Linked DNA regions of Homo sapiens. The protein of the gene in region 1 interacts with the protein of each later gene in a pairwise test. Each region holds a gene or a part of one and is shown in the gene's direction. Other genes may lie near its edges. The genes, in order: PTK6, DDX17, ZNF341 and MEIS2.

Evidence for each region.
Region 2: the proteins of PTK6 (region 1) and DDX17 interact in binary tests that used the Homo sapiens proteins (3 or more experiments, as listed by UniProt).
Region 3: the proteins of PTK6 (region 1) and ZNF341 interact in binary tests that used the Homo sapiens proteins (3 or more experiments, as listed by UniProt).
Region 4: the proteins of PTK6 (region 1) and MEIS2 interact in binary tests that used the Homo sapiens proteins (3 or more experiments, as listed by UniProt).

The regions. Positions count from the first base shown.
Region 1 is NC_000020.11:63,534,353-63,541,232, reverse strand, and holds the start of PTK6 (protein-tyrosine kinase 6), read left to right. Parts: upstream 1-3,856; 5' UTR 3,857-3,918; coding exon 3,919-4,148; intron 4,149-6,173; coding exon 6,174-6,295; intron 6,296-6,880. Other genes in the region: tyrosine-protein kinase Srms, read left to right, coding at 1-42, 234-415. UniProt on the Homo sapiens protein: Non-receptor tyrosine-protein kinase implicated in the regulation of a variety of signaling pathways that control the differentiation and maintenance of normal epithelia, as well as tumor growth.
Region 2 is NC_000022.11:38,496,297-38,503,320, reverse strand, and holds part of DDX17 (probable ATP-dependent RNA helicase DDX17 isoform 1 precursor), read left to right. Parts: intron 1-2,040; coding exon 2,041-2,191; intron 2,192-3,821; coding exon 3,822-3,921; intron 3,922-4,747; coding exon 4,748-4,881; intron 4,882-5,170; coding exon 5,171-5,236; intron 5,237-7,024. UniProt on the Homo sapiens protein: As an RNA helicase, unwinds RNA and alters RNA structures through ATP binding and hydrolysis.
Region 3 is NC_000020.11:33,734,982-33,742,005, forward strand, and holds part of ZNF341 (zinc finger protein 341), read left to right. Parts: intron 1-5,920; coding exon 5,921-6,031; intron 6,032-7,024. UniProt on the Homo sapiens protein: Transcriptional activator of STAT3 involved in the regulation of immune homeostasis. Also able to activate STAT1 transcription.
Region 4 is NC_000015.10:37,090,538-37,097,561, reverse strand, and holds part of MEIS2 (homeobox protein Meis2), read left to right. Parts: intron 1-1,131; coding exon 1,132-1,273; intron 1,274-1,947; coding exon 1,948-1,998; intron 1,999-2,984; coding exon 2,985-3,035; intron 3,036-3,831; coding exon 3,832-3,981; intron 3,982-7,024. UniProt on the Homo sapiens protein: Involved in transcriptional regulation. Binds to HOX or PBX proteins to form dimers, or to a DNA-bound dimer of PBX and HOX proteins and thought to have a role in stabilization of the homeoprotein-DNA complex.

The DNA.
Region 1 (6,880 bases):
TGCTGCACGAGGTTTTCACCTATGGCCAGTGTCCCTATGAAGGTGGGTCCCCAGGCAGCCAGAGGGAGGATGCAGGCTCTGCCCAGGAGTCACTGGCCCCGGGCCTGGACGCTGTCGGCAAGGGGTTGGAGGGTCTGGCCAAGGGCAGGCAGATGACATGGGGGGCTACAGGAGGCCTCCTCCATAGGGACCCCCAGGCAGAATCGAGGCAGCTCTTGCCCCGCGCCTCCCAGGGATGACCAACCACGAGACGCTGCAGCAGATCATGCGAGGGTACCGGCTGCCGCGCCCGGCTGCCTGCCCGGCGGAGGTCTACGTGCTCATGCTGGAGTGCTGGAGGAGCAGCCCCGAGGAACGGCCCTCCTTCGCCACGCTGCGGGAGAAGCTGCACGCCATCCACAGATGCCACCCCTGAGTCCTCACGTGACCCAACGCTCTGGGCTCCAGCCAGGCCAGCCCCTCCTCCCTGCAGAGCGCCAACTCGAAGGGATGCCGGTCTGCCGGACCGAGGAGCCTCTGGCTGTGGGCCTCAGGCCCTGGCGTGCACACATGTTCGTGCACCAGGCAGACGTGCAGACGGAGGGCTGGGGCTGACGTCCCCCGTGCAGTGTGACTCGTGCAGACGGAGGGCTGGGGCTGACGTCCCCCATGCAGTGTGACTCGTGCAGACGAAGGGCTGGGGCTGACGTTCCCCGTGCAGTGTGACTCGTGCAGACGGAGGGCTGGGGCTGACGTTCCCCGTGCAGTGTGACACGTGTCCCTGGCCTCTCAAGAGAGACAACGGCACAGGAGGGTGGGTAGAAGCCTCGGAGGCTCTGGGTGAGGAACCCTGAGCCCTGTGTGTCTCCTGCCTGGGTCCCCTGGACTCCCTCCCAGGGTGAAGAGCCAAAGGCCCAGTTCTCTCCCTAGTCCCAGCTTGGGTTTGTGGAAATGACCAGTGCTGACTCCCAGGCAGACCGTGGTGTTGACCCCACTGGATGTGTGGTATGTAGGCACGGGGTGGCACCGTCACCTGCCCCTCACAGACACACTGGCGGCCTGTGCACAAACCCACTCACGCACACAGCACTCAGTAAGCCGGGACTGACCCACTCAGACACGCACACAGGCGCACATCACACACAGGCTCAGCCCCCCAAACCCAGACCCAGGAGCTGGAGCGTACGGGTCCACGTGGCTAGAAAATGCAGGTTGGAGCGGCCCCCATGCCGCCCGGACCCCCAGCCCAGGACATCATGGTGCCCAGAGAGCGTGAGCCCCAAGGGCATTGGCAGGAGCTGCCGATTCCATCTCCCTGGGTGGGTTCCAGGTGGCACAGGAAGGGTGGGCCGGGAGGCTTGGTGACCTGGGAGCTGCCCTTGGAGGCTATTTCCAGGGGCCTCAGGGTGGGCCGTGGGGGATTTGGAGTCTTCTGCCTGTGCAGGGTCAGGCAGGGTCGGTTGGGGGCTCGGAGGTAGATGCCATGGTATGCTGGGCAGCAAGTGGCTCAGGAAGCCTCTGGGTGTGAGTCCTCGGGGGTCACCAAGGCAGGAGGGGGCAGGGATGTGCAGGGTCCGCCCTCGTCTCCCCACGTCTGGCTCAGGGAAGCTTCTGCTCAGGTCTTCGTGAAACACGTCAAGAAGCAAGGGGGCCGGTGGGGTCTGTTTGTGGCCCCCGGAGACCCTGCCCCCCACCCTCCTGGGAGCCCAGGTTGGCAGCTGTGCCCAGAAGGCTTTCGGGGACAGAAAGTTTGGAGACAAGTTCAGGCCTGACTGAGTCCTTGTCCCCTAGAGTTGGGGTCAGCTCTGTACCTGCTGAGCCGAAGTGCTGATGGCTGCCGTCCACAGGCCCCGGCCAAAGCCTGGCTCAGGAGGGAGCTAAGAGATGAGACTCCCGTGTGCAGAGACAGGTGGCCCCGGGGAAGGAAGAGGCCACTCGGAGGCTCCGAGAACGGAGGCAGCGCGGGGGCTTCCTGGGGCCCGTGCATCGGAGGAACAAGGCCAAGCGGAGGGAAGCAGCAGGAACCAGGACCCCTGCAGATGGTGGAGGCAAGAGGCTTTATCTGAGCCTTTGGGACCCTGGCCACCTGCCCAGCTCCATCTGCATGGGAGAACCTAGGGGAGGGGCTGGTTCTGGTACCTGGGCCCACTGAGGCCTTGAGCTGAGCTTCCAGTTCTGGCAGGTCCCCAGCACAGCAGCCTGGGGGCTCCTCTGGCACAGAAGGCCTCGCCCTCTGTGCTCTCTGCAGCCGCCACTGGGATTAAGGGGACCAGGTGTGTCTGTGGCACCTGTGCCCTCCTAGGCATCTCGCCAGCCACCAGCTGAACAGGTTTGGTGCTCCTGGGTATCTGGGAGGGGCTGGGGACGTTCCTGCCTCCTGGTGTGGCTTAGACTGAAAGTCCTGCACGTCCGAACTCAGGGATACTCGAGGCTTCCTGGACATAGACTCACGGGCCCAGAGTCTGGCCGGGCTCTGAGGGACGCTGCCCGGCCAGGTGCCCCGGCACCCTCCTTCCGCATTCCCCACCCCCCACCCCTCCCCCTGCATCCTCCCCAACCGACCCCAGACAGAGCTGGGAGGGCCTGAGGGACACTGCCCAGGCCGGCACCCCGCTGCCCCTCCCCACCTTGGTCAGCGCTGAGCTGGGCTGCCCAGAAATCTATGAGCCTGTTAAATAATCCAGATTATTGTTCTTAATCTCAAAACAATGAGTGGAAGGTGCCATTATTTCTCTTTGCAATAAAAATAAAAGTTGAAATACGCAGTTTAGGGACTTTCCTTACCACCCCTTGCAGACTTTGAATTTCCCTTCCCGCCCCTTCCTGCCCCCTTGTGGCTGCCAGTCCAGGTCCCTGGGTTGGAGCTCCCGGGTGGACACAGTAGGGTCAGTGGGAGGGTGGGGCGGGGAGGGGCCTCCAGGGAGGGGGTGTCCCGAGTCTCAGGGGCTGGGGGGCAGGCGGCCGTCGGGTGCAGGTGGGGGTCACGGCAGGGCTCACTCAGGCATGAGTCGGGAGAAGGGAGGCCAGCTGGAAGGGGGCAGGGGTCCTGCGGGCTGGACAGGAGGAGGCAGAGGCTGGAGGCGGGAGGGGCTGCCTGGGAGGGACCTGTGGCCTTGGGCCCCAGCGCCATGGGCGCTTCCAGGCCGCACTCACGGTCCTTGCCTGCCCCCTGGCGTCCGTGTGGAGGAAGGCAGTGCCCGTTTCTTCAGCCGTGGGTGCCCCTGGCTCTGCCTCCCCGGGGATCCCCCAAAACCCTCGGGCCCTCCTCTTCCGGGAAGTCCTCCGGGCCGACCCACACAGCTGTCGCTGCCCTGATTCCACTCCCTCTTCCCTGCTTGGCCCTTACCCGAGGGCGGGCCTGCCCATGAGGCCGCTCTCAGGACGCCTGCCCACAGCAGCTCCTGACATTGGGCCCTGTGCTCAGGGGTGGAGTCTGGGGCTGGGTGAGGGCACCGACGGGTGGAGGGGAAGCTGCCGGAAGCGGGGAGAGAGGCGGCCCCCACCTGTGCCCCCGCAGCTCTGAGGGTTGGGAAGGCAGCGCCTGCAGCCCTCACCTTCCTGCCCTCAGGCTGCGAGGCTTGTTCCCAGAGGGCCGTTGGCTTCCCTGAGTGCCTGAGTGTCCATAAGTTGGACCCCCAAGAAGCCCCAACCGGGAGGTCCTCCTCCCCCTCTCCTGCGCTCAGGCCGGCCCTGGCGGTGCTTGCCCAGTGGGTTCCCATAGTGCGGGCGCTAAGTGCTCAGATGGGCCCCAGTGGGCCTGAGGACTTGTGGGGCCGGCTGGGCCCTCAGGAGGAGCCGGGGTGCTCTGGAGCGCCTGTGGGTGCTGGGTGTGGCTGCTTCCCGGCCTGTCATGAGGAAGTGGGACGGCCCGCCTGCCACGCCCAGCTCTGGGTGCTCCAGCTGGGCCACAGCCTGGTCCTGCCGCTGCGCCCGCCCGCCATGGTGTCCCGGGACCAGGCTCACCTGGGCCCCAAGTATGTGGGCCTCTGGGACTTCAAGTCCCGGACGGACGAGGAGCTGAGCTTCCGCGCGGGGGACGTCTTCCACGTGGCCAGGAAGGAGGAGCAGTGGTGGTGGGCCACGCTGCTGGACGAGGCGGGTGGGGCCGTGGCCCAGGGCTATGTGCCCCACAACTACCTGGCCGAGAGGGAGACGGTGGAGTCGGAACCGTGCGTGTCCTAGGCTGCTGGGAGCTTTGGCACAGGCCACCCTCTAGGCACAGGGGAGGGACAGGGCTCTGGGCTGCTCAGGGAGGCCCAAGAAGGTGGGGACCCCGGTTCCATCTTCCTGCACCCCAAAGTCCAGGCTGGGCATCCCGCTTGATCCTCCCTGCAGGCCCCATGCGCTGGCGCCCAGGAGTGCCCAGGACTGTCCCTGCGGGAGTTGGAGCACGGGGGTCAGAGGGCACGGCCCCTGCCTTGGGCTCATCCTTGTCACAGCTCGGGGGTGGACGCTGCATTGCCGGGACCCAGGGAGGACAGAGGGTCCAGGGTGGACTTCTGGGGCCCGGTGGCCAGTGACAAGGTCTGTCGGAGCGTTCCAGGGCCTTTGGGGGAAACGAAGCTTGAAGCTTGCCCAGTTTCCAAAGTGCCGGAACCAGACACACGACCTAGTTAGGGGAGCGGGCCGGCTGCCGGGCAAACTTCCTGCCTGCTGTGCCCTGCGGGGAACCAGACAGCAGCTGGTGTGGCCTGGCCCTGGCTTCCACAGCTGCCCGGAGCTCAGGCTGAGGAGGGTCACGCTCCTGAGATCCCGCGTTTCTCATCAGTGATTGGGCACCCACTGTGTGTGTGCGTGAGTCACAGGCTGTGTAGGGTTAGCTCCCGGGGGACCCAAGCAACAAGCAGGGGAGGCTGTAAAGAGGCCGTCGGGCAGGGGCCCATGGTGGAGACCCCTCTATTACGTGCAGACCCACGACCTCGTTAGCAGGGTCACGCGCAGACCCACGACCTCGTTAGTGAGCAGGGGTGCAGGGGTGGGGTCTGGCCGGAGGCTGGTCAGCTCCCAGGTGCAAAGACCCTGAGTCCTGAGAACTCGCCCAGGTGAGAAGTGGGGAGGAGGCCAGGTGAGGAGGGGGTGGGAGGCCAGGTGGGGGGGGGAGCGGGAGGCTAGGTGGGGGGGGCTGGAGGCCAGGTGAGGGGGGGCGGGAGGCCAGGTGGGGGGGGCGGGAGACCAGGAGAGGAGGGGACGGGAGGCCAGGAGAGGAGGGGGCGGGAGGCCAGGAGAGGAGGGGGCGGGAGGCCAGGTGAGGAGGGGGCGGGAGGCCAGGTGAGGGGGGGGCGGGAGGCCAGGTGAGGGGGGTGCGGGAGGCCAGGTGAGGACGGGGTGGGAGGCCAGGTGAGGGGGGGGCGGGAGGCCAGGTGAGGAGGGGGCGGGAGGCCAGGTGAGGAGGGGGCGGGAGGCCAGGTGAGGGGGGGGGCGGGAGGCCAGGTGAGGAGGGGGCGGGAGGCCAGGTGAGGAGGGGGCGGGAGGCCAGGTGAGGGGGGGGGCGGGAGGCCAGGTGGTTGGAGGGGCAGGTGGGGCAGTGCTTCCAGGTGTGCGGAAGTGGAGGGGGTGGACCCCAGGGGCTCCATGCTGGGCCGTGGTCTTCTGTGTGGGGTTTGTGTTCCAGTGACCTGAGGGAGTCAGACACACAAAGGGCGCAGGTCACCTGGAGCTTCTGCAAGCTCCACCTGGAAGTCCACAGTCCAGGGCTGGCCCACACCCCGCAGCCGGGAGTTAGTGCGCGCGAGTGGCTGTGTGTGCGTGCGTGTGAGCGTGTGGGCAAGTGAGCACACATGCGCGTGTGTGTTCAGGTGTGCGGGTGAACTGTGCGCATGTGTGGGGGTTTGTGACTGTGTGTGTGTGAGCGTGCGTCACACATGGGTGTGTGCAGGCAGCTCTGGGCAGCCATCCTGCTCAGCTGCCCTCCCCAGCTCCACCCTAGGCTCTGACCCCTAGACTCGGGCCACTCAGGGCAGGGTGTGGTAGCGCCTGCCCCTGCCCCCGCCGGGTCCTCAGGGGCCTGTCCTGGCCTTTCGGGACATTCAGGGCGTCTGGGTCAGCGACAGCTCCTGAGAGCAGCTGTGGTCAGGGCTGGGAGCTTGAGGTGGCAGGCAAGGGCGGCTGGGGTTCCAGGCGGGCAGGCTGGGGCCAGCGTGGGGTCCACGTGGGGTGGGCCCAGGTCCGCGTGTTCTCAGACTCCTCCCCTGCAGGTGGTTCTTTGGCTGCATCTCCCGCTCGGAAGCTGTGCGTCGGCTGCAGGCCGAGGGCAACGCCACGGGCGCCTTCCTGATCAGGGTCAGCGAGAAGCCGAGTGCCGACTACGTCCTGTCGGGTGCGGCCCCGGCCTCCGAGCCTGTGCTTGCCTGCGGGGGCTCCTGGCTCTAAGCCCTCCCAGCCACGTGGTGAACCCGGCTCGCTCTGGCTGAGACGGGGGACATGGGCTCCTCTCCAGGGAGCTCCCATCCCCTCCGCCCACCTGGCCCGCTCCTCCCTGGGGCCTGGGTCACTGGCTGCTAGGGTAGTCGTGGGGCAGGGCCCCTCCCTGGGAGGGCAGGGGCTTCTCCAGCCAGCCCTGCCCGAGGCACTCGTGGGAGGTCCTCAGCACCCATGGGAACCTCGCCCAGCATGAGACCTGAGCCTGGGGTGTGCGGGGCGCAGAGAAACCCCATCCCTGCCCCTGAGGATCTCAGCATGGCTGGGATTTTAGGCAGCTGCCATCCAGGCGGAGGCCACTGGCTGCCTGGCACGGGGGCAGGAGGGGCCAGAGAGCTTGGCCAGAGCGTGCAGGGCAGGAGGGAGCCGTTCTGAGGGAGGGGAGGCAGGGGTGGTACTGAGGAAGCACCAACAGCAACTGTGGGGACCCAGAAACTCTGCGCAGGTGTGGCCAGCAGGGCTGGGGACGCAGGGAGGCGTCGGA
Region 2 (7,024 bases), on another chromosome or scaffold:
TAACAATGAAGTCTTTTATAATTTGCAAGAGTGATAATCCAAAGACTTTCTACCTCTTGAAAAGTACCTTATTTAGCTGCTTCATTTGCAAGTGTGGCGGGAGCGGCAATTGAGGTGGCCTTTTGGTCTGTTCAGTATTGAGTCTTAAGCTGAGGGGCATATTAAATATGTCGCTGACACGGGTATCCCTATGCTATGTGCTCTTCCTGTTCTGATTCTTAATTTGTCTTCACTGTCTCAGTAGTGGTATAAATGGAATTAGCCAAGTTCTGCCTGTTGAGTGTAGGTATCCAGTGATCCCAATAAAATCTCCTGCCATCAATTTTTGTTACGTATGTATTTAGAGGAATGTCTGGCTGGTTAAGCCAGAGTTCTAATGGCTTTGAATTGCAGGAAATTGAGGCCCTGTAGAATAATACACCTACTTGCCTATCAATGATAAAGTGGAACTTTATATAAGATGAAGTTACAAGTGGGTTAGAGTGGGAAAAGGGAACTAAATTCAGTACAATATTTTACAAGGAGTAAAGAAACTGAGAAAATGCTATACAGTTTGTATGCCAAACAAAGACCTGTACTTTACAAGATCGAAATAGGGAAAATTAAGGCCATCTTAGTGTTAAGATTCTTCTAGGAAAAGTAGCTTCTGATTTCTTAAATATTAGCTTTGGCTAGTGGTCATATTTGTATTCCTCTTGAGCTTGTCTGTTGTGAAAGGTATATAAAAAGCAAGAAGTTGATCTTAAGTAATTAGTTGAGTGTTAAAGCCTTAAATAAGTCTTGTTAGTGTTTTTTTCTCTGTAAATTAATAATACCATTTGGGAACAAGAAGGAGATAGAAGGTAAAAGTAGAGATCAAAGAAGAAGGAAAGGTCATAAATCTATGTTCAGCTTTTTTTTTTTTTTTTTGACGGACCCTCCCTCTGTCTACCAGGCTGGAGTGCTATGGTGCCATTTCAGCTCACTGCAACCTCCGCCTTCCGAGTTCCAGCGGTTCTCCTGCCTCAGCCTCCCAAGTAGCTAGGGATTACAGGCGTGCACCACCACGCCTGGCTACTCTTTTGTGTTTTTAGTAAGAGACAGGGTTTCACTATATTGGCCAGGCTGGTCTCAAACTCCTGACCTCAAGTGATCCACTGGCCTCCGCCTCCCAAAGTGCTGGGATTACAGGACTGAGCCACTGCCCCCGGCAGGCTCAGCTCTTTTATTAGCGTAAGCTAAAAATGAAGACCAGTCTACCAGTCCTTTCCAAGACCCAGTTTTGCTTTGCAGATAAGCAGACAGGTGGAGTGCTTATCACAGTTTAATAGGGGAGCAGGCCCAAGAAGCTATTCTAAGATTGAGGGACTTGCTTGGAGTGTATCTTCCTTCTTGTCCACAATCTTCCCTTTAATTGAAACTTAACTTAATGTCATCCTTTGCCTGCATGTCTGTTACACAAAAATAGAGACTTGTGTCTGTTTTGTTTAGTAACTCCAGCACAGCACCACTTCAAACAGTAGCCGATACATACTTGGTACCTAGTAACTTGGTACCTAATAACTATTTGTTGAATGAAATGATGCTAACTTGTACTGAGTGCTGGCTATGCCAGATACTTTTATAGTACATTACACATTATTAGGTCATTTTCTCAGCAGCCTCTGAAATAAGTGGTATTATTTCTACTTTGCATAGGAAACTAAGGTGTGTGGAAGTTAAATAATTCTCTTCAAATTATACAGTAAGTGGCAGAATAAAAACTCAAACCATGTCTGGATCCAGAATCTGTGATTGTAATCCCTAGGATGTATTTCTCTCAATAAAGGGATTTTTAATTTTTTGCCTATTGTAGCTATATTCATAAACAGTATTTATTGTTGGGTAGTAAGGGAGGTTTTACACATTTCTCCATACCTTTAAATCACAGCAAATAAAATGGTCTTTTTGGAGGTAGGCTGGTAGTATCCCTAGAACTCCATCCTTTTTGAATATTCTTATGGCATGTACGATACGTTGCTTTAAAAATACTGATGAACTAACTAAAAATTCTGTTCCTAGATTTGGAGCAAGAGGTGGTGGTGGCCTTCCCCCGAAGAAATTTGGTAATCCTGGGGAGCGTTTGCGTAAAAAAAAGTGGGATTTGAGTGAGCTCCCCAAGTTTGAGAAAAATTTTTATGTGGAACATCCGGAAGTAGCAAGGCTGACACCAGTAAGTTTACATGTGTGTTTTAATGTACAGATTATTGAACCAAGTAGATATATTGGTTAGAGTTTATTCATACGCTACTGTTGCCGTTTTACATTTTATTCTAGTGTGGTGATATTTTTCTTAAAAAATTTTTTGGTTAATTTTTTTTTTTTTTTCCTTTTTGTAGAGACCGGGTTTCGCCATATTCCCCAGGCTGGTCTTGAACTCCCTAGCTCAAGCAAACTACCTGCCTCAGCTTTTCAAAGTGCTAGGATTACAGGCGTGAGCCACTGCACCCAGCTGATTTTTTTTTTTTTTTTTTTTTTTTTTTTTGAGACGGAGTTTTGCTCTTGTTGCCCAGGCTAGAGTGCAATGGTGTGATCTTGGCTCACTGCAACCTCCGCCTCCTGGGTTCAAGCGATTCTACTGCCTCAGCCTCCCAGGTAGCTGGGATCACAGGCACCCGCCACCATGCCCGGCTAATTTTTTGTATTTTTAGCAGAGATGGAGTTTCACTATGTTGGGCAGGCTGGTCTCAAACTCCGGACCTCGGACCTCAGGTGATCGACCTGCCTCAGCCTCTCAAAGTGCTGGGATTACAGGCGTGAGCCACCACGCCCAGCCTCTTTTTATTTTTGAGACGGAATCTTGCTCTGTCACCCAGGCTGGAGTGCAAGAGTCAGGGTTTCACCATGTTGATCAGACTGGTCTCCGTCTCCTGACCTTGTGATCTGCCCGCCTCAGCCTCCCAAAGTGCTGGGATTATGGGTGTGAGCCACCATGCCCAGCCTTTCTTACATTCTTATCTAAGACCCCTAATACTCATAAAAGGGGACCAGTTTAAATATGCATTTAATTTGTTCTCTTGTTGATAATGCTTACTAATCTGTTTATTATACATGATTGAAATATTGTATATTAGGTCATGTTTTTTCATCTGTTAGTGAAAAAGATAGATTGGCTTTTTTTTTTTTTGAGGTGAAGTCTCACTCTGTCCCCTAGGCTAGAGTGCTGTGGCATGATCTTGGCTCACTGCAACCTCTGCCTCCCAGGTTCAAGCAATTCTCCCACCTCAGCCTCCCGAGTAGCTGGGATTACAGACATGTGCCACCACGCCTGGTTCATTTATTATTTATTTTTTTTTTTTCAGTAGAGACGGAGTTTCACCATGTTGGCCAGGCTGGTCTCAAACTCCTGACCTCAAGTGATCCACCCACCTCAGCCTCCCAAAGTGCTGGGATTACAGGTGGGAGCCACCGTGCCCAGCCAACATTGTCTCTTCTTGTACCTCATTACCATTGTTTTTTGGACTCTACACATGAAATGGTTACTCTTTCAGAAGAAAGTGTAATGGAAAGAGTACTTGGGTCCAAGTTCCACTTTTTTTTCCTTCTCATTCTGACCTTGAGCAAGTTACTTATCTTTTTTCTCCTATAGAAAATGGAACTCTTAATCACCTACATCATTAATTAACTTACAAAGTAAGTAGGAGCCTTGCAGAGTTAAAGTGATACACATGAAAGTACCATGTAAACTATTAAATATTTGCCAACATAGCTGTGGACTGGATAATTGCTCAGCTAGCTTGGAACATAAATTCTGAATGTTTAGAATAACTAGTTTACTAACTTCTTTCATTTTTTTTCAATAGTATGAGGTTGATGAGCTACGCCGAAAGAAGGAGATTACAGTGAGGGGGGGAGATGTTTGTCCTAAACCCGTGTTTGCCTTCCATCATGCTAACTTCCCACGTAAGTGTTCTTCAATCTAGAACCTTAATTTGTTAAATTGGGTTGAATGGGAGACAAGGGTAGTAGGTTAAACTCTTTGAGCCAGGCTTGGGGTTTTGTTGAAAGGACAAGAGATTGTTTTTATGGTCATCAGTTCTGTTCTAGTATTTAGACTGAGGTTTTGTTTTTGTTTTGTTTTTTTGAGGTTTTTGTCTTTTTCTAGGGTTTTGCCCTCTGCCTTTTAGAAAACAGCAGAATGAAATTGCTTTCTAGCTGGATATAATGTGAATTTGCTAAACAATAAATGACTACCATGTTCCCATGTCCTGTTAGATGCTTTAGGGTAATGGTTTTTCAAATTTCTGGGAGAGGTAGACTATTGTAGCAGCTTTTGTTTGTTTGTTTTTGGAAACGGAGTCTCAACGTTGTCACCCAGGCTGAAGTGCAGTGGCGCGATCTCAGCTCACTACCTCCTCTGCCTCCTGGGTTCATGCGATTCTGCTTCACCCTCCCGAGTAGCTGGAATTACAAGGGCCCACCACCACTCTGGCTAATTTTTGTATTTTTAGTAGAGACAGGGTTCACCATGTTGACCAGGCTGGTCTGGAACTCCTGGCCTCCACTGGCCTCAGCCTCCCAAAGTGATGGGATTACAGGCGTGAGCCACCTAGCCTGGCCCTTAGAAGCTAACAGTGAGTTGGTCGGAGATCTAGTAGATAAAGAAAAAGCACTTTGGAGAGATGAAGCTGGGTAAATCTTATCTTCAGTGAGCTTAAAAGTTTTTTTAAAAACTCTTGGTTTGTGTCTTTAAACACAATAAAATACGCAAAATAAAATTCTCTTACAGAATATGTAATGGATGTGTTGATGGATCAGCACTTTACAGAACCAACTCCAATTCAGTGCCAGGGATTTCCGTTGGCTCTTAGTGGCCGGGATATGGTGGGCATTGCTCAGACTGGCTCTGGGAAGACGTTGGCGGTATGTATGAGCAAGAGAAGATCCTTGATATTGTGGTAACTTATTTTGCTATTCTAGTTGTCATACGTTCTCAGTTCTTCGTAGAAGTGCCATTCAGATAGTTAGATACTATTTTAGTTATTAAATATATGGAAGCATTTTATGTTCAAATTTGTATTGCTTCCTGTATATAGCAGTGGTAAGTTCTGTTTTTCACTTTCCTATTTATGCATTAATTCAGTAATTACTAAGTATCTAAGTAAGATTGTACTTCTAAGCGTAAGGTTGTCATTCTTTCCCCCCTCCACAGTATCTCCTGCCTGCAATTGTTCATATTAACCACCAGCCATACTTGGAAAGGGGAGATGGCCCAATCGTAAGTGTGTTTCAGTTTCTTTGTAATTCTAAGAAAAACTACAATTTAGCGACTATTTAGGCTTGGTGCTTTACATTATCCATTTGTACTCTTAACCACACCCTCCATAGGTGGAAATGGTTTCATTCTCATCTTACTTGGAATTAAATGACTTACCCAAGATCACTCAGCAATTGAATAGCTGAGCTTACATTTGAACCAAAGTCTTACTCTTAAAGAAACCATGCATGCTGTATGGGCATTTACTGTGCAGTAAATCAAGTGTTTTCTGGTTTTGGTGTGGTTTTTTTTGTTTTTTTGTTTTGATTTTTTGTGTTTTTTTGAGATGGAGGTTCGCTCCGTGTTGGTCAGGCTGGTCTCAAACTCCTGACCTGAGGTGATCAGCCCACCTTGCCCTCCCAAATTGCTGGGATTACAGGCATGAGCCACTGCGTCCAGCCTTCTTTCTTTTTTTTTTTTTTTTTTGGAGATATATTCTCACTCTTGTTGCCCAGGCTGGAGTGCAGTAGCGAGATCTCAGCTCACTGCAACCTCCGCCTGCCAGGTTCAAGCCATTCTCCTGCCTCAGCCTCCCGAGTAGCTGGGATTAAAGGCGTGCACCACCACTCCCAGCTAATGTTTGTATTTTTAGTAGAGACAGGTTTGCACCATGTTGGCCAGGCTGGTCTGGAACTCCTGACCTCAGGTGATCTGCCTGCCTCGGCCTCCCCAAGGTGCTGGGATTACAGGTGTGAGCCACCGCGCCTGGCATTGAATGTGTACTTTTTTTTTTTTTTTTTTTTTTTTTGAGATGGAGTTTCGCTCTTGGTTGCCCACGCTGGAGTACATTGGCACAATCTCGGCTCATTGCAACCTCCACCTCCTGGCTTCAAGCGATTCTCCTGTCTCGGCTTCCCAAGCAGCTGGGATTACAGGCATGCGCCGCCACACCCAGCTAATTTTTGTATTTTTAGTAGAGACGGGGTTTCACCATGTTGGCCAGACTGGTCTCGAACTCCTGACCTCAGGTGATCTGCCTCGGCCTCCCAAAATAATGGGATTACAGGTGTGAGCCACCACGCCCGGCCTACTTAACTTTTTTAAGAAATAAGCTTGCATTTGTCCTATATATTTATGAACATGTACAATATGTCTCAAGATATTCACAAAAAGAAATAATGCAGTACTTATAATACATAGTATATGTCTGACAGCATTATTATTAGTTGATATCTAATGGATCAGTATATAAAGCAAGTTTCATAATTTAATTTGAATGGTATATGATACCTTGATTTTTGTATTATTTGGCCAGATTGTACACAGTCTTGTCAGATTACATGTAAATTTTCATTGTTTTTGCCTTATCTACCTGGTGATGTGCTTAAATTAGAGGTCAGGAATGTGTCATTCTGCCAGTTTAAGTCAGGATGACCATCCAAAATTCCAAATTTTAGGCCAGGCATGGTGGCTCACACCTGTAATCCCAGCACTTTGGGAGGCCAAAGTGGGCAGATCACATGAAGTCAGGAGTTCGAGACTAGCCTGGCCAACATGGGGAAACCCCCATCTCTACAAAAATACAATAATTAGCTGGGCATGGTGGTGCCTGCCTCTAGTCCCAGCTACTCAGGAGGCTGAGGCGCAGGAGAATCATTTGAACCCAGGAAGCAGAGGTTACAGTGAGCCTTCATTGCACCACTGCACTCCAGCCTGGGCGATAGAGTGAGACTTTGTCTCAGAAAACAAAACAAATCCAAATTTTGAGGACCAATATGATCCTCAAAGTAAATGCTTGCTGGAGCATTT
Region 3 (7,024 bases), about 30 Mb from region 1:
AGGCATGAGCCACTGAGCCTGGCCCAGGCTGCCTTTTTAATTTAATTTAACTTAATTTTTTATTTTTTTGTGACACTCTCACTCTGTCACCCAAGCTGGACTGGGGTGGTGCGATCTTGGCTCACTGCAACCTCTGCCTCCCAGGTTCAAGCGATTCTCCTGCCTCAGCCTCTTGAGTAGCTGGGATTACAGGCGCTTACCACCACGCCTGACTAATTTTGTATTTTTTAGTAGAGACGGGGTTTCACCATGTTGGCCAGGCTAGTCTCGAACTCTTGACCTCAAGTGATCTGCCCGCCTTGGCCTCCAAAGTGATGGGATTGCAGGCGTGAGGCACTGTGTCCAGCCAGCCTTTTTTATTTTTATTTGTAGAGACAGGATCTCACTCTGTCTCCAAAGCTGGAGTGCAGTAGTGCATTCATAGCTCACTGCAGCCTCAAACTCCTGGGCTCAAGTGATCCTCCCACCTCAGCCTCCCAGGTGCGTGCCAGGACACCCAGCCAATTTTTTAAATTTTCTAGAGATGAGGTCTTGCTATGTTGCCCAGGTTGATCTTGAACTCCTAGCATCAAGCAGTCCTCCTGCATTGACTTCCCAAAGTGTTAGGATTACAGGCATGAGGCACTGTACCCACCCTGCATTTGTTTAAATTTTTTTATTTTGAAATCACTTTTTCTGTAGATTCACATGCAGTTGTGGGAAATGATAAAGAGAGATCCCACGTGTCCTTGACCCCATTTCCCCTGGTGTAACATTTTGCACAACTACAGTGTGTTACCACCAGTCAACATACAGAACAGGGGCATCACTCCAAGGAGTTGCCCTTTTATAGCCACACCCTAAATCCTCCCCTTCTCCCACCATCCTTGATGCCTGGCAACCACTAATCTGTCTCCATTTGTAAAATTTTGTGATTTCAAGAATACTATATAAATGAAATCATAAAGTGTATACCATTGAGATGGGCTTTTTTCACCCGTCATAATTCCCTAGTGATTCATCCAAGTTGTTGTGTATAGCAATAGTTTGTTCCTTTTTATTGCTTAGTAGTATTCCATAGTATGGCTATTTCACCATTTAACCACTCACTGAAGAACATCTGAACTGTTTCCAGTTTTTACTATTTTTTTTTTTAGACCCTGTCTCAAAAAAAAAAAAAAGTAAAAACTGGAAACAGTTCAGATGTTCTTCTGAACCATTTCCTACACCCTCTATCTCCTCTACTACCTTCTGGCCCTCCTCCCCCACTCTAGTGGGGCTTAAGCCCCCCACCATTCTGAAACTGCCTCTGCAAAAATTGTAACAGTGAGAAAATCATGACAGAGAAAGACGCCTGACCTAACCAATCCCTACCTTGCCTTTAACCTCCAAACTGCCCTTAGTCATCCCCGGGCTTGGGCCAAGCTAACTTCGGCAGAAATTTAATTTACAGTTTAAATGATAATAGCCCTTCCCCAAAACTAAACTGTCTTTGTAAAGCTATTGAAAGACCACCAGGTTTTCACCTGGGCAACATGGGGAGATTCCATCTCAAAGTGTTCACTGTTGCCCAGGCTGGAGTGCAGTGGCATGATCTTGGCTCACTGCAACCTCCACATCCCAAGTTCAAGCGATTCTCCTGCCTCAGCCTCCCGAGTAGCTGGGACTACAGGTGCGTGCCTCCACACCCAGCTAATTTTTTCTATTTTTAGTAGGGACGGGTTTCACCATGTTGCCCAGGCTAAATTTTTTACTGTTATACCTAAAAGTGCTATGAACATTTGTATACAGATTTGCACACAAATGCTAAAACACTCACAATTTTGCATAAAATGGTAGAAGATTCACTGAAGCTTGTTCAGGAGAGCTTGAACCCCAGGCTTGAAACTCCAGATATTGGAAGGAAGTAGACTGGGGTGAGTGAGACTGCCCAGGGACAGCATGAGAGGCAGAGGTGAGAGAGTCCAGACAAAGGAACAAAGGACAAAGTGTTTCCTCAAAATGGAAACACTTAGGGGGTGGCCAGGAGAAGAGAGTAAAGGAGGCACAGAAAGGTAGAGAAGACCCAGGAAGGCTGTGCCCTGGAGCCAAGAACAGAGTGTTTCAGGGAGTGGCAGGTGCTGCCAGATGGTCTTTGGTGATGATGGGGAAAGTGTTTTGGTGGAACTGTAACCATCCAATGGGTTCATTTTGCCTGCTGCCCAGATACAGCCAATTTATCAAGACAGGGGAATTGCGACAGAGAAAAAGTTACATTCACACAGAGCCAGCTGAACAGGAGACTGGAATTGTGTTATTACTCAAATCAGCCTCCTAGAAAATTCAGAGACTAGGTTTTTTATTTTTATTTATTTATTTATTTTTTATTTTTTATTTTTTGAGACGTAGTCTCGCTCTGTTGCCCAGGCTGGAGTGCAATGGCGTGATCTCACCTCACTGCAACCTCCGCCTCCTGGGTTCACGCCATTCTCCTGCCTCAGCCTCCCAAGTAGCTGGGACTGCAGGCACCTGCCACCATGCCCGGCTAATTTTTTATATTTTTAGTAAGGATGGGGTTTTACCGTATTAGCCAGGATGGTCTTGATCTCCTGACCTCATGATCTGCCCACCTTGGCCTCCCAAAATGCTGGGATTACAGGCGTGAGCCACCATGCCCAGCCAGACACTAGGTTTTTTCAAAGATAGTTTGGGGGACAAGGGAATGGGTGCTGTTGATTGGTTGGAGGTGCAATCATAGAGTTGTGGAAAATGGTCCTCCTACATGCAGAGTCTGCTTCTGGGTGGGGCTGCAGGACTCATTGGCGAGTCTACGTGGAGCCATTGGTTGTCAGAAATGCAAAAATCTGAAAAGATATCTCAAAAGGCTAATCTTAGGTTCTATAATAATGATGTTGGGGCCAGGTGCGGTGGCTCACACCTGTAACCCCAGCACTTTGGGAGGTCAAGGCGGGCAGATCACCTGAGGTCAGGAGTTTGAGACCAGCCTGACCAACATGGAGAAACCCTGTCATTACTAAAAGTACAAAATTAGCCAGGCATGGGGGCGTGTGCCTATAATCCCAGCTACTCGGGAGGCTGAGGCAGGAAAGTTGCTTGAACCCGGGAGACAGAGGTTGCAGTGAGCCAAGATTGCGCCATTGCACTCCAGCCTGGGCAACAAGAGTGAAACTCCATCTCAAAAAAAAAAAAAAAAGTTGGCCAGGCGTGGTGGCTCATGCCTGTATTCCCAGCACTTTGGGAGGCCAAGGTGGGAGGATCCCTTGAGTGCAAGAGTTTGAGACTGTCCTGGGCAACATAGGGAGATTCTATCTCAAAATAATAATAATGATAATAATATTATATGCAGGAGTAATTGGGGAAGTTGCAAATCTTGTGATCTCTGGAATAATGGCTGGTAATATTTATGTCTACACCTTACCAGAATGTAGGTTCCTCTTATCCTCCTAACCTCATGGTCTTTCATTAGCTTCACAAAGGAGGGTTAGTTTTGGGGAAGGGCTATTATCATTTAAACTGTAAACTAAATTTCTCCCTAGTTATCTTGGCCCAAGCCCAGGGATTACTAAGGGCAGTTTGGAGGTTAAAGGCAAGATGGGGGTTCGTTAGGTCAGGTGTCTTTCACTGTCATGATTTTCTCACTTTGCAACTTTTTCAAAGGTGGTTCCAGATAGTGGAGGGCTTAAGTCCCACTAGAGTGGGGAAGGAGAACTGGAAGGTGGTAGAAGAGATAGAGGGTGTAGGTGACCCTCATGGGATACTTGCCATTGAAGGGAGGAGAGATGGAAACATGAATTTGCAGGAGGGCACTCTGGAGAGACTGATCGTGTGTAGCTGTGGATGGTTCCCAGGCACAGTGTGGTGAGAGTTGGTGGAGAGTGGCTTCTGAGGAGCAGGAGGAGATGGAGGGGAGGGCTGCGCTGGCAGCGTCAGGAGGGACACAGCCTGCATTGTGACAAGGGAAGGCATGGATTCAGTTTGGCTGCAGTAGCTGATGGTTTCAATTTTTTATTTTATTTTATTTTATTTTTGAGACGGAGTCTCACTCTGTCACCCAGGCTGGAGTGCAGTGGCGCCATCTCCGCTCACTGCAACCTCCACCTCCCGGGTTCAAGCAGTTCTCTGCCTCAGCCTCCCTAGTAGCTGGGATTACAGGCACCCACCACCATGCCCAGCTAATTTTTGTATTTTTAGTAGAGATGGGGTTTCACCATCTTGGCCAGGCTAGTCTTGAATTCCTAACCTCGTGATTCACCCGCCCCTGCCTCCCAAAGTGCTGGAATTACAGGCGTGAGCCACCATGCCCGGCCAGAGATAACTGGTCTGATGGTTTCAATTTGCATTGCAGTTAGAAGCTGGGGAAGACATCCCAGTAAAAGCTGAGAGGTTGGAGGCAGAGCATCGGCTGTGGGGTCATAGAGAGGAGGCACCATCTGGGTCTTTTGGGAGTGGCACAGTGTGCCTTGGTGGCCACTGAGATGTGAGGAGGCCTGTCATCCGGCTAGTGACATGGCCAGACAGTGTACTACTGTGAACTTCAACTGTGATAACTGATTAGAAAACATGGAAGAAGTCAGTTTCTCGATCCCCCAGCCACCAATTCAGAGTCTATTGTTTATTGCAGAACAAAAAAGATAGACACACATTGAGAAATAAGGAAGGCAAGGACGCCCGCGTGCACACAGATTTGTGGGGTTTGGGGAGTGTGCATGAGGAAAACTGGCTAACGTGATTTCTGGAGGGACTTTGTCACCTAGGATTAGCGTCAGCCATGAGTAAGACAGGCCCCACGTCACAGTGGCTTCAACAGGCTGGAAGGTTATTTCTTTCACATGAAAGTCCAGAGGAAGGCAGTCTAAGATAGGAAGATGGCTGTGTTCTACAAGGTTCTCAGAGGCCCAGGATTTATCCAGCTTTTTTTTTTGAGACAGAGTTTCGCTCTTGTTGCCCAGGCTGGAGTGCAGTGGCAGGATCTCAGCTCACTGCAACCTCTGCCTCCTGGGTCCAAGTGATTCTCCTGCCTCAGTCTCCCAAGTAGTTGGGATTACAGGCACACACCACCACGCCCAGCTAATTTTGTATTTTTAGTAGAGACAGGGTCTCACCATGTTGGCCAGGATGGTCTCGAACTCCTGACCTCAGGTGCTCTGCCCGCCTTGGCCACCCAGAGTGTTGGGATTACAGGCGTGAGCCACTGCGCCTGGCTCCATCCAGCTTTTTATCCTACGATCCTAAGGTTGTCCTTATGATCCAGGATGGTGGATTGAGTTGCTACCACCATATTCTTATTCTGGGAAGTGGAAAGGAGGATGGGACAAAGAAGAGGGTCACATATCAGGCAGTTTTAAGAAAACTTTCCAGAAGCTGCCACATAGCACATTTACATTCCTTTGGCCAGAACTTAGTCATTCCCTAACTGTAAGAGAGCCTGGGAAGTGTAACCTTTATTTGGGGGCCATCTTTGCAGCCCAAAATCTTGGGCTCTCTCACAATGGAAATAGAAGAGAATGTATATTGGGGCATAGCCGGCCATCCTTGCCATGGGGTTTTGTCTTGCTTGAGACAGGGTCTTGCTCTGTCAAGAGCAAGTACAGTGGAGTGAGGTGATATGATCATGGCTCACTGTACCCTTGACCATCCAGGCTCAAGCAGTCCTCCCGCCTCAGCCTCCCTAGTAGCTGGGACCACAGGCATGCACCACCAAGCCTACCTAAATTTTGTATTTTTTTGTAGAGGTGGAGTCTCACTATGTTGCTGCCTAGAATGGTCTTAAACTCCTGGGCTCAAGCGATCTCCCACCTTAGCCTCCCATGGTGCTGGGATTACAGGTCTGAGCCACCGTACCCAGCCGCCACAGGGGTTTTGCCTGGGTCTGGCTTGTAAGGGTGATGTCAGAGCATGATGCTGGGCCTACCTTCCAAAGAGGCTGCACTTCTTTTTTCAGGAATGGACAATCAGACCGTTCTGGCTGTCCAGTCATTATTGGATGGCCAAGGAGCAGTCCCTGATCCGACAGGCCAGAGTGTCAATGCGCCCCCTGCTATCCAGCCATTGGGTGAGTATCTGCTCAGGTTCACCGGTGGGAGAGTGAATGGCTCCCCGCGAAGAGTAGGTGGAGCTTGTGCTGGGCTGTGGGAGTGAAATGCTTGCTGTGGTCCCCAGGACATGCTCTGGTGTCTGAACCCTCTCCCCCGCCTCCCAGCCGGGATCTTTGGGCTCACGGCTTTCTCTGCTTAGCTCTGAGGACACTGCTCTCAATTGCTTAGTAAATGTGGGGAGATGGGATCAAGATGCAGGGAATGGCTAAGGGCCCCAATGCCTGACAACAATGCCTGTGCCTTTGCCCTGGAAGTGATTATTCAGCCTCCCTTCTGTGGAAAGAATAGGCTGAGCATGAATTGCTCCTGTTTACTGGGCCAGGCCTGTAAGGGTCTTCTTTTTTTTTTTTTTCTTTTTTTTCTTTTTGAGACAGAGTGTTACTCTGTCCTCCAGGCTGGAGTGCAGGGCACGATCTTGGCTCACTGCAACCTCCACCTCCTAGGTTCAAGCAATTCTCATACCTCAGCCTCCTGCGTAGCTGGGATTACAGGCGTGCGCCACCACGCCTGGCTAATTTTTTGTATTTTTAATAGAGATGGGGTTTCACCATGTTGGCCAGGCTGGTCTCAAACGCCTGACCTAAGGTGATCTGCTCACCTCAGCCTCCTAAAGTGCTGGGATTACCTGCATGAGCCACTGCACCTGGCCTGTAAGGGCCTTCTTTTGGAAGTTTCTATGTGAGACTGTGTTCATTTATTCATTCCACAAACATTTTTGTGTACTTGGGAATCACACTAGGGGCAGGGAGATAAATGGCTGGGTTTGAATTATTGTTCTTATAGTTCTTAGCTCTGTGACCGTGGGCAAGTGAGTGAATTTCTCTGTGGTTCAGTTCCTACACCTGTAAAATAGGGACAATTGTTCTGCCTCATAGGAATCTTATGAGAGTACTTGGGATTTGGTTCTAGCTGTTGAAGTTTACCATGGTTTCTACAAGATTAAAGTTTGT
Region 4 (7,024 bases), on another chromosome or scaffold:
TTTTTTCTTCTGTTTCCTACTGAGGGTCTGGGAGTCACTAACAGCAGCTTGAGCTGGGATCAGGGCTGCTTCTGTCGGCCAGGAAGTCCTAATCACCCACTTCTTAATTCTCTGTAAATAAAGGGGGCAGACCTCGAAGTGCAGCGAGGTGGAAGGGACTCTTGCTTGCTTGGAGCCGCTCTTAGGGGGAGTAAGGAAGATGGCTGGAAATTATTTTATATTCTGAGAGCACTTGGCGAGGGGTGAGATGCACGATCCTAACGTGTACCACACGAGCTCTTCCGGCTGAGGGTAGGTGGGCAAAGCGACGGGATGCCGAGGGGAGGGGACAGTGGGTAAACAGCAACTGAGCCCCAAGCCAGAGGCCGCAAGCATCCCGAAGTGTGGCTAAGCCGCCCGGAGGAACACAAAGGGCATACGCGCACGCACACTTAAAGTTTTAAAACACGATTTATTTATTTTTGTCTGCTGCAACGCTGGGAGAAATGTGGTCTTTGGAAGGAAGCTCTCCAGTGTGTAACCTTCCTATTATTTTGGCCCCCACACTGTGGCTTTAGTAGAACAGGAGCAAACAAGTTTATAAGGCAAGGAGGTGGAGAGATTAAAAGAGCATTCTCTTGCATTTATGAAGTGTCACTCCGGTGTGTATGTAGGTGAAGCCTTTGGCCTCGTCTGAAATGCCCATTAAAATGCAGAGTTAAAACTATTTTTTTTTCAATTTCACACAGTGTTCCCTTCTTGGGAGGTCAGGGCTGGGTCTCAGGGGTTGGTTCCGCGGCCTCCGTAGTGTGGGGAGTGGATCAGAATCGACTCGGGCTCCAGACTGCCTGAGCGTCTCGGATGTTTCATTACGTTCCAACTGAGGCTGTTTTTATTTGTCGGGCTGCAGTGGCCGGGGTCTTCTCTGGCCAGATCTGAGGGACCTCTGAGCTGCGGGAGAGGGCCAGGCCCTTTTCCCTTTCTGTTTCTGGCTTAGGCTCGCCTGATGGAGGAAGGGTTGTAAAGTGTGGTGCGTGCCTGTTGTATTAAAGAAGGACTCCACACCCTCCAAACTTGTTGATTACAGTTCTTGCTCCTTCCCCTCTGCACCCCGTCTCTGTGTGTGTGTCTCTGCGTGGCGCTGCCCGTTAGGCACCCGTTGTTTCCTCTGTTAGCTCTGGTCTTTGAGAAGTGCGAGCTGGCGACCTGCACTCCCCGGGAACCTGGAGTGGCTGGCGGAGACGTCTGCTCCTCCGACTCCTTCAACGAGGACATCGCGGTCTTCGCCAAGCAGGTCCAGCCTTCTTGATCCACTCAACTTCGGGCAGTCCCTCACTACCCCTCCCCTTTCCTCGGAGCTTTACTTGAAAGGAGGAAAGGCCAGGGACACCCTATCTGTTCCTCTGGCCCAGTCCGCTCTCTACGCCTCCTCCCCATCCCTGAGCCTGGGGGCGAATTGGAAGTGGAGATAAATATGGGTGTTTGTTTTCCCCCCCAGCAGGAATACAGGGGTCGACCCTCGAATTAAAGTTGACCTGCTCCTAATCTGGGGCTTGGCCTTTTTCCCCCGCCTCCAGCTACTTGAACAAGAATTGGGGAGAGGGGCTGTGAGGGACCCGGGAGTGCCCGGGAGGCAAGGAAGCTGGGCGCCTCTCCGAGCGGTCCCAGGCAGCAGTGGAGAGCCACAGCCTCTTGGACTGCTGGATATGGAACTCGAGGCCCTGAGAACGACCCTGAGTTCCTGGCTACAGCTTAGTCGTACCAGGTCCCCCTTAATGGGGCCAGGACCAGAATGCCCTGATTCTTCTTCAGGGACTCCACTAATTTAAGGCACCAGTTTCTTTCTTGTATTTTGCCAAAGCCCCTTTCCTCTTCTCCGCCATTGCCCTCCACCGTACCCATTCTCACATTTCAGCTTTCTTATTTTAAATGGGGTGATCGTTCAAGTTGACTCTCTGTTTCTTACAGGTTCGCGCCGAAAAGCCACTTTTTTCCTCAAATCCAGAGCTGGACAATTTGGTAAGGCTCTCTGTTCCTTGTTTTTCCCCAGCCTTTGCCCTCTCCCATGCCCAGAAGCACCCACTTTCTGCTGGAGCTCTGGGGAGTTAGAACAGAACCCTCTTTTGGAGCTCTAGGGAGAGAGGGAGGAAGGGAGCAGCTTAGAGCCCCCGCACGGGAGCTGGCGAGCGAGGAGCAGGATGAACGCGGTGGGGAGCGAAGCCCAGGGAGGCCGAAACGGGAGACCGAGCGCCGAGAGCGCGAGCAGGGGATGTTTCCCAGGTCTCGGCCCCAGGAGTAAACTGCGAGAAGTGAGTTATTTCCTCTGTTTGCCGGGGCAGGCGGCCGAGCCCCGGGCGGCTAACCCGAAGGATGTAACCACTGGCACGGCTGAGGGCGGGCTGGGGGTGGGGGCTGGGGGGCGGTGAGGGGCAGGCCAGCGCAGGCCACTTTTAGGTGCGATTCTTTTGCTAATTTGCACGATTTCAATATTAAAAGTACTTAAATCCGCTTTCAAAGGCCCTGCCTCAGCATTCATCTTGAGTATTTCCTTCTTTAGTGAGGAAGGATTTCGCTGGGTATGCTGTTCTAAAAAGCTTTTTCTATCCTGAGAAGGGACCTTTTTTTTTTTTTTTTTTTTTTAAGGAAAAAAAAAAAAGTTGTCCTGAGGTCGAGGGAGGGGATGTTTAAAGAGGACTAAGAGGAGAAAAAAGGCCTGGCCCGAGGAAAGCAGTCTTACAAATAGCACAGTGAACATCAGGGGGAAAGATATTAATGCTTATGCTCAGGTTGAGTCAGATTCCTACCCCGTGGCCAATGAGGCAGAGATGATCAGTAATCACTTGATTTTTCTGACTATTTCTTGATGTTTAAGTTTTTCCTGGCCACCTGCCCGTTTCTTCTCCCCAGCCCAACTTTCTCACCACCATCCTCACCCCACTCCCAACCCCAAGACAGGACCTCAGAGTCACAGAGCTCTAACTCCATTCCCTGAACTTTTCTTTCAGATGATACAAGCAATACAAGTACTAAGGTTTCATCTTTTGGAGTTAGAAAAGGTAAGCAGGAAATAACGCTCCCCGTGTTGATTAAACCATTTCCCTCTCCTAGTTGAGTTGGGATGTTTTTAACAAACCTCTAGTGTGAGGGATTGAGCACCTGGAGATTTTGAGCATGTAACCATGTCCATCCTTCAACTCGCTTCTCAACACAGGGGCTCAGAGGGTGGGTGAATCAGGACAGCCTTGCCTTTAAAGTAGCCTCCTCCTCCCCAATATTCCCCTCAGGCATTCAGGATTATTTTGAAATGCAGCAAACCATTTATGTTACTGGACACTCAGCCTGCTTGCATCTTTATTAGCTCAGCTCACCCTCGGCCCTGGGTTTGCATTAGGTGCAGGCAGAGTGAATCATCCTTGCTGGGTGTCTTTACATTGCTCTGCAGCTCAATTACTTTCCCCTGGAAACATACGAAACCCCTAGCTTATAAAATCACAAACGTTAATGCTCTCCCCAGCTCCAATGTTGTAATGTTTTGATGTTATTATCAAATCAGATTTAATTCCCTGGACTCCCACTCTGAACCCAGTTATTTCCAGTCCTGTTTCTTTCTCTCTCTATTGTAACTTGTTGCTCAGAGAAGTCTCTGGAGAATAATATCTGCTGCAACAATTACTCTATTGTTTCCTTGCCTTCAACTATTACACCCTTTAATTAGAGTTAGTTTGGAAGACATCACACTGTTGCTCTTTGCAAATGTAACCTTGCAACCTGGTATTTTTCCTTTCTAAAAATGAAACAAAACAACAACAACAACAACATGAGCTAAACCCTCCACCATGACCTTCGTTCTAGGTCCACGAACTGTGCGATAACTTCTGCCACCGATACATTAGCTGTTTGAAGGGGAAAATGCCCATCGACCTCGTCATTGATGAAAGAGACGGCAGCTCCAAGTCAGATCATGAAGAACTTTCAGGCTCCTCCACAAATCTCGCTGACCATGTAAGTCTGCTAGCCTTTAGCAATCTTTTAAGGCCACTGGGCAAAGCATTATTTTAACCTTGTTTTAACATCTAGCTCCACTGATTTAGTTTTCTTTTTAAATGACTCCGTCTCTTTTGGGGTCTTTTCTTCTCTTTCTTGCTTTCTCTGCCATACCCTTCATTTTCATTTCTCCTTTCTTGGACCCCCTCCTATTTATGTTGAGAGCCAAAAAACCAGAGTTGATAGAGTGATTTGTGCTCTTAATGTGTAAAGTTTTCTGGATTTGGTGACTTGGGTGTTCGCAAATTCTGTTTGATATAGTCACCACTGTGTTTTCTGCTTTCTTAATTTTGTGTAATCAGTGCAGCAGGGATAGAAAGAAGCAAGACAGTTAGCTGGACTGGTCTGGAGAGAGAGGACTGAATGAAAGAGAATTGAGTGAGTGCTGATTTCCTAGTATGTCACAGAGATGACAATTCTGAGAATTATTGGCAATCTTGCACTGCATTCGAAATAAAAGGGGTGAACAAACACATTACAATTCTCAGGGCTTTTGCTATAGAAACTTATTGTCAGAATAGGGACTTATTGCCAAATGCCTGAAGCATCTTCATAATAAAAGACAGTAACCTTGATGAACCAATTATTAACAATGTATTACAGAAAGCTGAAGGGAATTATGATTGAGTAACCATAGGTTAGTGGTTGAATTTTAACACTTTAACAGTTGGTGAATGAGGATGGAGAGTATAGTAAGAAATGACTGTGTATGTCAGGCCAGGAAAGGAGATTTCTTTCTATTCTCTCTGTTTCTAATCCTATTTTGGAACCAATCTAGTGAGTCTGATGCTAAAAAAAAAAAAAAAAAAAAAAAAAAAAAAAAAAAAAAAAAAAAAAAAAAAGCATATGTAGTGAGACTGAAAATTTGAAAAAGAAGCAAAGAGAAGAAAGATTGCAGCTGGTAGGAAAGGCAAGAGTGGCGAGGTTAAAGAGTGGGTGTGAACAGCAGTTTTATTTATAGGAACTCAAGCCTGGAAATGGGGGACAGGGTGTCTATAGATTACATTCAGTTGAACTCACAGCCTAAATAATATAAGCTGTAGTTTAATAACTTTGTGGCCGAAATATTAATTTGACACTCCGTGTGAGTTAAACAGGCATTAAGGCTTGAAGGCAGTTTGTCCCTACCTCCCATCCCAATTCCTGACTGGTATGAGAAATGAATTGGGATGCCTTAGTATAAACCTTCTATGAGGTTCTTCTCTCCCCTGCTCCAGACAAAAGTTTTGAAAATATGCAGTCATAGATTTTCATAATTAACCTTTGCACTTGTATGGGAAGCCAGCCTAAGAACAAAAGTTAGAAAAAGTCTAGAAAAGAAAACCGCAGTCTGGGATATCCAGTTCTGTGACAGAATAAATACTGCGGTGTTGAAGGCTCCTATTCTTATCTCTTTACCCTTACCTTTTTCCATCATGGTGAGGGAATCTTTGGTGATCTCCTTTGTATATTGAGTGAATGTAATGAAATCAAAAGGATGCAGCAGTGGTTATGGAAAGTTTATTTGCTGATCTGTGGCTCCACAGTGTGTTGTGGTCCATGAGGCATGACACTACCTAAGAAATATTTACATTTGTTGTTTTTTGTGTGTTTATTTTCATTGTTTTCTGTTTCTATATTTATATTTATTCACATTATTGGGAGACTGGGGAGGGATCTATTTACATGGTTTGTAAAATGAGAGGTTCACAGTTCTCGGAGCCAAAAGCTTTTCTCATGATATTTCTAGGAGTACCTACTACTTAGTTTTCTAAAACAGTTTCTTGGCAACTCTTTTTCCAGTGGATGTATACAGCTAGACCATGTTGATGTTTACATAGAAAAGATAAGATAAAATAGGCTGTTTAAAGTATTGGCTGATAGACAATATCAATTTATGAGACTATTGTAATATTTAAATATCCACTCAAGAAGGAAGTTGTACCTAAGAGGATAGTGCTTTAATAATTTATCAATCATCATCTTTGGATAAAAGAGTCAACTGTAACATTTGTTGCTCTCCTTTCAGGCCCCCAGTCAAGTAAATATGACAACTGATTTATTTTGAACCCATGAGGGCTTGCCACTTCATTGGGTGTCATAATTTAAAGCCTTTTATTTCCTAGAGATCTGAACTATAACATTTTTACTTTAGCCCCCTGCTATTTGTTTTGAAAGGAAGCAATAATTTGTTCCACCAGCACACCAAGTAGAAAACGGAGAGATTTGCCACAGACTTGTATTTTATGCAGGGACATGAGAGAAAACCTTGGAGAGTTTTCACCATTTTTGAGACTTTTGTACCATAGGTGTATTGATTGTATTCATGTCCAGGCTTCCCCCTTCAAAGCAAATCCTCTTATGCTTTTCAGCCTCTTCTACAAAGTTGCCTTCCTTCAACCCCCTAGCCAAACACAAAGTAAAAATAACAAAGAACCACTACCTGAAAAGTGGTGTGAGTGGGACATTTTCAGCATGTAAATGTGCCCAATTTGAATCTTCAGGTTTATTTTTCATTTGCTTTGATATGCATATTTAATACATTGCCCCAGGCTGGATCTCATTTGGTGAACACTGGTGCAGGGGTGATGATGAGCCACTTCAGAAAGGCCCAGACAGCGCGTTGTTTTCTTGTTTTATCTGTTGGCCCACTATTCTGATCTGAGCTTCCTCTTGGTTTTATTTGCACATGAAATGCTGAGAGCATTTCAACTTATTGGCTATGAATAATGACAGCTAAAAAAGAAGTGTAGTTTAATTTGTTGTATGCCAAGGTTTCTCTTGTGGAGGTGACAGTTTGTGACAGCTGTTTGACACCCCCAAAACACATACACCTCTACTCTTATTAAGTGGTATCCAGCTTCATTGTGTGTGTGTGTGCATACTCGTGTGTGTGCATGTTTAAGGAAGGAACATGCAAGGAGAGAGAGAAAAGCAGAGAGAAATGCATCAGAAGCAAAATATTAGGTACCAATATAGTTTCAGTATTCTTTAAAAGAATTTGAAAATGTAAATAAATAAA